Regions from separate parts of the Homo sapiens genome. Here region 1 is linked to region 2. The links come from fine-mapping of genetic effects on gene expression. A gene starts in region 2. The other region holds a variant in brackets. All regions are shown on one strand. Distances are from middle to middle.

Region 1 (5,286 bases), 140 kb before region 2:
CAACCAGTTCTGCATCTAGCTCCTGCCCAGACCTTTGGCTGCCAGAATCTAGAACCATGGCTGACCAAAGCGAGACTTCCGAGTAAGGTTCGTTAACAGGCATCCTGCTGAATTAGAAGGAAACAGGAACGAATCCAAAGCAAACGGGGCTAAACTTCCCTCGAGGACATTTCCTGAGCTGCAACATGGGAAGCGACAGCACCGAAGCTGGTGAGCTGGTGCAACTGCACACACCTTTTCTCTGGTTTTTAGTACTCACAGGTCATCCTGGGGAGACCGCTCATGGGCTATGGGCAGCCCATGCCTGGATTTTTTGGTGAATGAGTCTGAAAAGCAGTGACCAGGTGTGTTGAGGGCCTCCCCTTGCCTGCACCTTTTTATCTCTGAGTGACTGAGGGCTGCCAAGGCCAGACAACGCACATGTGTCCTGGATCCTCCCCTGGCCTGGGGCAGCAGCAGCAGCAGCAGCTGGGCTTGGGGTGAGTAGGCTGGCTTGAGGAAGGGGCTGCCCACAAGCAGGGCTCATTTCCTGGGTCAGGGCCTGTCAGACTCAAAGTCAGCTCTTCAGCATTCTGTTTAGAAAATGATGATGCAGTTCAGTGAGAAAGAAAGCTCAGGATAAAATATGTTTTCTGGAGGGGAAATACTCAAGTGTTCTAAGCCAGGAACAGAGACTCTCAAGAGAGGAATTCTCTGGCATTCTCTGCCTTGGATAAATCATGGATTAAACATGAGCATCCTTAGAATAATTTTATTTTTGTATTTCACTTTACACTGTAATGCAAACAGCTTTTATGTTTTCTTTGACGAAGAATCATAATTGAGTCACTTTAGGTCTTTTAGCTGGAAGCATTTCACCCTAAATGAAAAGTTAATGCATTTTTTACAAGGATTAACATGCTAACTACAACTTGCCCTTTCAGCAGATGACAATAAGGGATTCTGAAAAGTTTGGACTGTCTTTTTCTTTTTGTATACAAATAAAGCAGCAGATCCTTTCTCTGTGAAGGTTGTTGCAGAGCTCCCGTACCAGCTTATAAAATGCGGCTGTTTAAGCAGGACTTGGGTGGGCAGCAGAATTCTGCACATGACGAGTGGCTGCAGCTTAGAAAGCAAATTTCATCTGATTCCAGTACTGTGATTTTAAGGAAACGGTAAAACTCAAAGTGCCAGTAATGCCATCAAGGCTCAGTAACATGCCATTTCCTCAGCAGCTAAAGACAAAAAGAATTATTTTGGTGAGGGGATAGAAATCCTTTCGCTTTGCAGTGACACCCACTTTTTCTTAGCTTGGCTTGGGAGTAAGGAGATTGGAGTGTGGGGGGACATTAGAAACTCATTTAAGGCAAACTGAAATCTCCTTCATCAGCAGTCTTCCTGCTGGTGTAGCCACAGCAGAACTCCGAGGCTTGCAGGCTGGGCTGTCTCCTTGCTGCCTGGCTTGGGTGTTTATTTGGGCAATGCAAGCTGACATTGTGAGGTGTTGCCGATGCCCAGGCCAGCTAGCAGGGAGCCCTCCCAGGGCTGGTAGAAACCTATGTGTATATATATTCTCAAATTTAAATAGATTGTACATAGTGAAATGTAAATGACATGTAAAACAGCAATCTCTATTTTTCTTAACTATTATATAGCAGTATATATTTGTTGAACATGCTTGTATACTCTTCATTAACCATTTTAATATTTTGTACAGATAAGTTGATTAAATATTTTATTCATAAAACCGCTCATGACTGGTCTCTAAAGGAAAACATTTTCAGCTTTTGTTACTCAGCCTTTCTGTGTTACTGTAGTCCTCATTAATAGAATAGCGACCAGCTATTGAGGCCTTAGGACTGACTGCATTTTAATAGTGAGAGTGACATAACAGGCCTGACTCCACTTGCCTTTGTGCCGATCATTCCCCTGTATTGTCAGATCAGGTGTGAGGCTGTGGGCCTCTGGTATGGGGGGCTGCACCCTGGGTCTTGGTGACTGGTATGAAACTGTATATGATGCTGCTGCACACAGCCTCACACGGCATGAAGTCACTGCAGAGCAAGGTAAAAAACATCAAGCTTGGGTTCAGGAAAGGAGGCCAAAATGCAGTGGAAAACATTTTCTCTTTGGGAAATGAGCATGATAATGTGTAGAGTGAGCACTGTCATTCCAAATGCAGTTTGGGTGGACAGGTTTTCTGTGTTTATACATCTCAGACTGCTGCAGGACCTGTCTCACTCCAGAAAGCATGAGCCCTCCCCACCTGGAGGATGCACAGGTAAGTCTCTGAAATCCCAAGGCATAAAGTCCCATGGAAGCCGCTTCCTCTGCAAGGCCAATTACATACGTCACAGAACCCAATAAGGTCCTACAGCAAATTCGACAGGC[C/CT]TTTTTTTTTGCCCAGTACTCTTCGAGACAAGTACAAAAGCCTGTGCTTGGTGACACCACGAAGGATGCAGCAGGACAGGATCAACCACACAGCGTTCTGTTGCTATCCCAGCTCTCACAGCTGACTTTTGCCCAGATGGAGAAATCTATTTCATGTGTTCCTTAAATATTTCTGGGAGAGGACTAATGACAGAGCAGGAATTGTAGGAAGTTGACAGGGACTTGGCCTTATTAGTGACTGTTACCAGGATTACCTCTTTTGCGATATGAAGCCTGCTGGAGTGACCCACATTTTCGTCAGTGATGGCAGCCCATGTTCATGGTGAATTCAATATCCCAGTTTGTTAATGCAGGTCCCTGTGGTTATGTAACTTTCTCTCTCTGGTGAAAGATCAAGAAAGCCTGCCTTCTTTTCACCACTCGATTTCCTATTATAAATAAAGGAGTCTCTTCTTTGGAAGAGAAATTGTGTTCCCTTTCCAACTAACTCATTTGGCAGGTACAATCAATGTGTAAGTTCTATGACCCTGCCATCGAAAACTGGAATGTCTTGTCATGCTTTGTTTATAAGCATCTTTGGTCCATTTTTCATTTTCTTATTTTTCAGTCTCCATTTGACCTACCACAGCATTCTGTGGTTAGAGTACACATTCAGTAGAGGAGTAGTTACAGGGAGAAAGGAAAGTCGGGAGTGGCATTAAAAATTTTATCCAATTTCCCAGACACTGATAAGAGCAAATCTAAAAGGCCCGTCCATGACTAATGGTAAAGGCGGCTAAGATTGACTTCTCCACTCCTTCCCTGGTCCTGTCAGGTCCTGGATCTGCCTCTGATGCCTGCTCATTTCCAAGCAGGCCAAGGCAAAGATGCCTCCAACTGCTGTTCCATTGAGGGTGGTGCCCAACGTGGTCATGGATGCATGTGCTCTTGTGTCCTAGGAACCCTGTGACTCATCTGCTCAGAAAGGACAATGATCTGGGGAGAAACTTGTCCACTGTGAGGTGCCACCAGCATGCAGCCCTATAGGCTGTGGGTGTCTGCCGAGTCCTAATCACATGCAGGTGCGTGGCCCTTCACAGTGGCCAGTAGGAGGAAGCCCAGATGTTCTGCAGAGCCTGAGCTGGATGGATTTGCAGAGGCGGGATTCTAGTCCCTCTGTGAGGGAGGGAGACCCTGCAGGTGCACCGCACCCCCTGGCTGTAATGGACGCCCAGTCACAGGGTCACATTCTCATCCCAGGGAAGAGGAATTTTCCCATAGACTTACCCAGCAAGGAAATCTGTCCCAATGTGGGGAGGTCAGCACAGGCCCCTTTGCCAGAATGTTTGAGGAATGCAACACAAAATGAAAATGCTCGATTATCCCAGAGCACAGTCATGTGTATTGTTGCTGTAATTCCCACTCGGGGTGCTGCGCGGGGTTAGTGCTCAGCAAATAATAAACTACATATTTGGTAGTTGCTAATACCCAAACTCCAGAGGTTTTCTAATTGTAGAAGAATGGAAGTAACAGTTGCAGCCATATCAGACAAGATGAATGGGACACAAGGGATAGTGGCCTTGCTTCCTTGCAGTCCCCCAGTGCCAGACACAAACAGTCTGCAAAGATTCAGACATCCTTGAATCTATCTGACCCAGTTGTGCACAGCTCTGCTGGGGAAACACTTAAGGGATAAAAGAGCAAGTGTCCATGTCTGCACTCCCACTGATGTGTCAGTTTTAAGATGAAGAAGCCCAGAGATGTGATTTCCTGGTAGTCCGACCCAATGTGAGAATTGCACTTTTTCACAGCTTGCCTATTAGGTATGGTAGAAACTTTTTATTAATTTAGATAACAAAATTTATAGACTACCCTGTGTAGCAGGCCATATTTGATATGCCCTGACAGCACAGAGATGACTAAGACAGAAGGTCATCTTCTAGGACTCTCCTGAGAGAAGGGGTGTTGGTGGAGGCAGGGAGGAGCAGACTGCAGAGACACAATCCCGCAGCAATGATAAGTCATTCAGTAGACACAGGCCAGGCCAGGGGTCATGAAGACTGGCAGGGCATGGAAGGGTGGGAAGGACCGCTCTGGGAGGCAGGAGCAGTTGGTATTTTAGGCCACGTCTCATGGGGTGGGGTAGAGGATGGGCGTAATCAAAGCTGGAGCAGTGATTCCTGTACAGAGGAGTCCACAGGAAGCTCCCGTGCGTGGCATAAGACCAGGTGGCTATGGAAGAGTTGCAGAGGTGCCGGCCATGTGGCTGCAGCCACAGCACTGACTCCCAGCATGTGGGCTTGCTTTCTCTCAATCCACTGCCTGATGCATATTTTTGCCGTCTGAAAACTGGTCTCTGTTATAGCTTTCATTCTTTTAAAACTACTCATTTGTTACCAACGATCTACTCGTCACTTCTTCTGTCAATCGGGTCCTCATTTGCCCTTTGCGTGACTCTCTTTCCCGGCTCTCCACTTTTGCTAGGCTTGCCCACTGTGGCCTCCAGGAGGCAGCATGATGCAGTGGAAAAAGGGGATGAAGTGGTGGCTCTGGAGTAGAGGCCTGAATTGGAATCTGGCTTAGTTCATTTTCTGTTGCTATAATGGAATATCAGAGACTGGGTAATTTATAAAGAAGAGATTTATTTCTTACAGTTCTGGAGGCTGGAAAGTCCAAGATTGAGGGGCTGGCATCTGGTGAGGACCTTTGTGCTACATCCTCCCTGGCAAAAGGTGGAAGGGCAAGAGAGCATGAGAGAACAAGAGATCAAACTTGCAGCCTAATATTGTGGCTTTTTATCACTGGCATTAATCCATTCAGGAAGGAAGGGCCCTCATGACTCAGACACTTCCTGTTAGGACCCACCTCCCAATAGTTGCATTGGGGATTAAGTCTCTAACACACGAACTTTGGAGGACATGTGCAACTACAGGAGAA
Region 2 (5,469 bases):
AGGGATGTGAAGGACCTCTTCAAGGAGAACTACAAACCACTGCTCAATGAAATAAAAGAGGACACAAACAAATGGAAGAACATTCCATGCTCATGGATAGGAAGAATCAATATTGTGAAAATGGCCATACTGCCCAAGGTAATTTATAGATTCAATGCCATCCCCATCAAGCTACCAATGACTTTCTTCATGGAATTGGAAAAAACTACTTTAAAGTTCATATGGAACCAAAAAAGAGCCTGCATTGCCAAGTCAGTCCTAAGCAAAAAGAACAAAGCTGGAGGCATCACGCTACCTGACTTCAAACTATACTACAAGGCTACAGTAACCAAAACAGCATGGTACTGGTACCAAAACAGAGATATAGATCAATGGAACAGAACAGAGCCCTCAGAAATAATACCACACATCTACAACTATCTGATCTTTGACAAACCTGACAAAAACAAGAAATGGGGAAAGGATTCCCTACTTAACAAATGGTGCTGGGAAAACTGGCTAGCCATATGTAGAAAGCTGAAACTGGATCCCTTCCTTACACCTTATACAAAAATTAATTCAAGATGGATTAAAGACTTAAATGTTAGACCTAAAACCATAAAAACCCTAGAAGAAAACCTAGGCAATACCATTCAGGACATAGGCATGGGCAAGGACTTCATGTCTAAAACACCAAAAGCAATGGCAACAAAAGCCAAAATTGACAAATGGGATCTAATTTAACTAAAGAGCTTCTGCACAGCAAAAGAAACTACCATCAGAGTGAACAGGCAACCTACAGAATGGGAGAAAATTTTTGCAACCTACTCATCTGACAAAGGGCTAATATCCAGAATCTACAAAGAACTCAAACAAATTTACAAGAAAAAAACAAACAACCCCATCAAAAAGTGGGTGAAGGATATGAACAGACACTTCTCAAAAGAAGACATTTATGCAGACAAAAAACACATGAAAAAATGCTCATCATCACTGGCCATCAGAGAAATGCAAATCAAAACTACAATGAGACATCTTCTCACAGCAGTTAGAATGGTGATCATTAAAAAGTCAGGAAACAACAGGTGCTGGAGAAGATGTGGAGAAACAGGAACACTTTTACACTGTTGGTGGGACTGTAAACTAGCTCAACCATTGTGGAAGTCAGTGTGGCGATTCCTCAGGGATCTAGAACTAGAAATACCATTTGACCCAGCCATCCCATTACTGGGTATATACCCAAAGGAATATAAATCATGCTGCTATAAAGACACATGCACATGTATGTTTATTGCAGCACTACTTACAATAGCAAAGACTTGGAACCAACCCAAACGTCCAACAATGATAGACTGGATTAAGAAAATGTGGCACATATACACCATGGGATACTATGCAGCCATAAAAAAGAATGAGTTCATGTCCTTTGTAGGGACATGGATGAAGCTGGAAACCATCATTCTCAGCAAACTATCGCAAGGACAAAAAACCAAACACCACATGTTCTCACTCATAGGTGGGAATTGAACAATGAGAACACTTGGACACAGGAAGGGGGAGATCACACACCGGGGCCTGTTGTGGGGTGGGGTGAGTGGGGAGGGATAGCATTAGGAGATATACCTAATGTAAATGACAAGTTAATGGGTGCAGCACACCAACATGGCACATGTATACATATGTAACAAACCTGCACGTTGTGCATATGTACCCTAGAACTTAAAGTATAATTTTAAAAAAATTAAAAAAAAGAAAGAAAAAATCCTCCAGTCTGAAGGCATTAAGTTATCAAAAAGCAAAATATTAAAATATAAAATTTTAGATGGGCACCCACTGTGTTGCCCTGATTATCCCCCTAGAATGCTACATGCTGGAAAGAGGGGCCTTAGCAGGTTTCTAAGTCTTTAACCTTCAGGTGGAAAAATGGGGAAACACACAAGAGACACTCCTACGTATAGTTTCAGAAAGAAGTTTAATTAAAAAACAGCTTTTGAGAATAAACATTCTGGAGATGCTTCTAAATCTTCTGGGTTTCTTTTGGTTGTATCTCTTTCTCCATACAGATTTGTTCTTTCAACTCAAGGACTATCAACTCTTTTTTTTTTTTTGAGACTGAGTCTCACTTTGTCGCCCAGGCTAGAGTGCAGTGGCGCCATCTCGGCTCACTGCAAGCTCCACCTCCCGGGTTCACGCCATTCTCCTGCTTCAGTCTCCCGAGTAGCTGGGACTACAGGCGCCCGCCACCACGCCCGGCTAATTTATTTATTTATGTATTTATTTTTGTATTTTTAGTAAAGATGGGGTTTCACCGTGTTAGCCAGGATGGTCTCGATCTCCTGACCTCCTGATCCGCCCGCCTCGGGGTCCCAAAGTGCTGGGATTACAGGCGTGAGCCACGGCGCCCGGCCAGGACTATCAACTCTTGTGTTTGGTACACAGGACACAAAGCAGGTGTCCGGTAACTACTTGCGAGGGAAGATACGAATTAACCAAGGAATAAAGTGTTCCAATCTGCATTCTGTCTTGCGTGGGGAACAAAACCAAACTAAGACCCAAGGATGAGGGTTTACGGTTAAGGTCTTCAGCGTGAATAAAAGGCGGCGTGAGCACTAAACGCCGGGGGCAAAGAACACTCCCGGCCCAGAGTTTGACCCCTCCTAGCGAGTTCTTCCCGGCCAGCTGCCCAACTTTTTGGCCTCTACTCCTCCGCGGGGGCACCATAAGACTCCCTACAGGTGGGCTACACTTAGGGGTTCAAATGCTGCATTACCGCGCTCGGGTGAGCGACTGCCCGGCCTGCAACTCAAGGGACTCCCAGGCCAAGTGGCTCCGAACTCGCGAGCTGTCGGAACAGTATTATTTTTGCTGCTACGGGCCATCTGGCCCAGGGCAACAGGGGCTCTGCGAGGAACCATAGAGAAGAAGGGGCGCCAGATCCCGCGTGCCTGCCCACCCGTCCTTCCTTTGGGCAGTCACCCTGAGCTCGGCAAGCTGTACCTCACCTGTCCACCTGGAAGGCTGCCCGCTCTCCCTGAGGGTCCTGGGAAGGCGGCACGAGACCGGAAGTGCCCCCCTCAGGTGACGTCACAGTACCGCGCCGGAGCTGATCCGGGAAGCCGATGTCAGCCTGGCGCGCGGCGCACAGCTGGCTGGGAGATTTCTTACTGGCTTGGAGCCGGTGGTCCAGATCAGAGAGACCTCTTGGAGGGTGTCGGGGTTTTCCTTTCTTTTTCATTTGAATTTTATCCGCCTTTTATTTTCTGTCATCCTTGATGTGCTTCTGGCTTCTGGCTTCCCTTTCCTTCTCTCTCATTTGTTCCATGTCTGCCCCTCTTTTCTCCCTCTTCCCATTTCCCTCTTTCTGCGTTACTAGTTGCATATCTTCCCCACATACACAGGAAAGTTGATTCTCATTTGATCATGTTCATAAGCATGATCAATAAAGTATTTTTTTAATTAAGGTGTTGCCAACTTTAAGAAAATTCAGAGAATAATATTAAGTATAGAGTTTATTTGGGCTCAGTGCTTGAGAATGGCCACTCAGGAGCTTAGATTCAAGTTGCCTTGAATATACACTCCAATTAGCAGCAGTCGGAGTAGGTTTTTTTTTTTTTTTTTTTTTTTTTTTGAGACGGAGTCTTGCTCTGTCGCCCAGGCCGGACTGCGGACCGCAGTGGCGCAATCTCGGCTCACTGAAAGCTCCGCTTCCCGGGTTCACGCCATTCTCCTGCCTCAGCCTCCCGAGTAGCTGGGACTACAGGCGCCCGCCACCGCGCCCGGCTAATTTTTTGTATTTTTAGTAGAGACGGGGTTTCACCTTGTTAGCCAGGATGGTCTCGATCTCCTGACCTCATGATCCACCCGCCTCGGCCTCCCAAAGTGCTGGGATTACAGGCGTGAGCCGGTTTTTAAGGAAAGGAGAGGAGGCAGAGCTTAACTTGTTTACCAAGAATTTATATTTAAAAAACTTAAGCTATTGACTGGCTATGCTTTCTTCCTTGTATCACAAATTCCAGGAACATAAAGATAATGGGTGAGGCAGCTAATAAAGAACAAAATGCCTTTAACAATTGCCCTAAGGCATGGGAAGGCGTGGCGGAAGCCAGTATTCACTTCTGTCCGGGTCTAATAAATTTTGCATACCTCACATAGCTCAGACAGCTCTGGGCTATTTTTCTTTTCTTAGTATGTACTTTTTTTAGACATAATACTGTTGTACACAATAATCTACAGTACAGTGTAAATATAAATTTTATATGCACTGGGAAACCAAAAAAATTCTGTGAACTGCCTTATTGTGATGTTTGCTTTATTGTGGTAGTATGGAACTGAACCCCCAATATCTTCAAAGTATGCTTGGATTTAAAAAAGAGGTTTACTTAGCTCATGGTTCTGCACATTGGAAAGCTCAAGGGGCATAGTGTGAGCATCTGCTCAGTTCTGGTTAGAGTTTTTTGTGCAGTGTCACAACATGGTAGAAGGTCAAAGGGGAAGCTGATACATGTGAAAACAGACCAAACAGGAGGTGGAAAACAACCCACTCTCTCAGGGACTCTCTCTTTTCCAATCTCTCAAGAGCTGTTATCAAACCAAACTGGAGTCCAATTGCCTGTGCAGCAAGACCAAACACTGACATCAGGATTATAGTGAAAGAAAGTGAGGCATTTATTGTAGGGTCCCAAGCAAGGAGAACTGGTCAGTTAGTGCTTAAGTCTTGAACTCCCTAATTGTTTATAGGTAAGGGTTTTTAAATGCAGGGGTGTCAGAGGTTATAGGCAAAGTCATAAATCAATATATGGAGGTTATATATTGGCTTAACCTAAAAATGCAGTGAGGTAGGATGCAGGAATTGGACACCAGACCAAATTGAGGACTAGCTAAAACAGGGGCAGGGAGGAAGCAGCTTTCCATATTAATGCCCCTTTCCATGGCAACAACCTGACAACCCAGAGGTTACCACCCTTTTCCTAGAAATTTCTGCATAATTCACCCCTTAATTTGCCTGTAATTAAAAATGATTATAAATATGACAGAAGAACTGCCTTTCAGATGCTACTCTGGACACACTGCCTATGGGGTAGCCCTGCTCTGCAAGGAGCAGTATCTCTGCTGCTTCTGGACACTACTACTTCAGTAAAAGTTGCTATTTAACACCACCGGCTCACCCTTGAATTCTTTCTTGGCGAAGCTAAGAACTCTACTGGGCAAATCCCCAATTTGGGGCTTGCCTGCCGTGCATTGGCGGGGCATCTCAAAGAGGGGGGCCCACAGGTCATAGGTGGAATTTAAGGATTTTCTGATTTGTGATTTGTTAAGAAGGTGAAACTCTCTAAAAATTTGATATCAGCAGAAAAGGATATTAGCTTGGGCTCATGGGCATGGCCTCCTTTAAGCACCTCAAGAAGAAATTTAGAACAAAGAATAGTAGTCAGAGTTTAGCCTTCAATTCTCCCTTATTTGAGGCCTGTGTGCCAGTGGATCCATTTAGTG

Alleles and levels. Alleles are on the strand shown, and positions count from the first base shown. SD is a standard deviation of normalised expression in the study named.
With allele CT in place of C in region 1, the expression in macrophages of the gene that starts at base 3,046 in region 2 is higher (small effect, 0.36 SD a copy in Nedelec 2016).

The links. PIP is the estimated chance that this variant, and not a neighbour inherited with it, causes the effect. A credible set is the group of variants that fine-mapping cannot tell apart.
Region 1: its variant is the best candidate, but not a certain one, in a credible set for the expression of LDAH in macrophages (Nedelec 2016, PIP 0.72).

The regions. Positions count from the first base shown.
Region 1 is chr2:20,677,518-20,682,803 of GRCh38, forward strand. GDF7 (growth differentiation factor 7) reads left to right here. Exons shown (of 2, transcript NM_182828.4): 2 at 1-1,726. It also overlaps a transcript of LDAH not described here. Among named protein-coding and RNA genes, the nearest start is that of GDF7, 13 kb to the left of the region's middle. The variant C/CT (reference allele first, on the strand shown) is at 2,371.
Region 2 is chr2:20,820,056-20,825,524 of GRCh38, forward strand. It overlaps LDAH (lipid droplet associated hydrolase), which reads right to left and starts at 3,046. Exons shown (of 7, transcript NM_021925.4): 1 at 2,982-3,046. RefSeq lists enhancers at 1,922-2,747, 2,550-2,619, 2,840-3,229.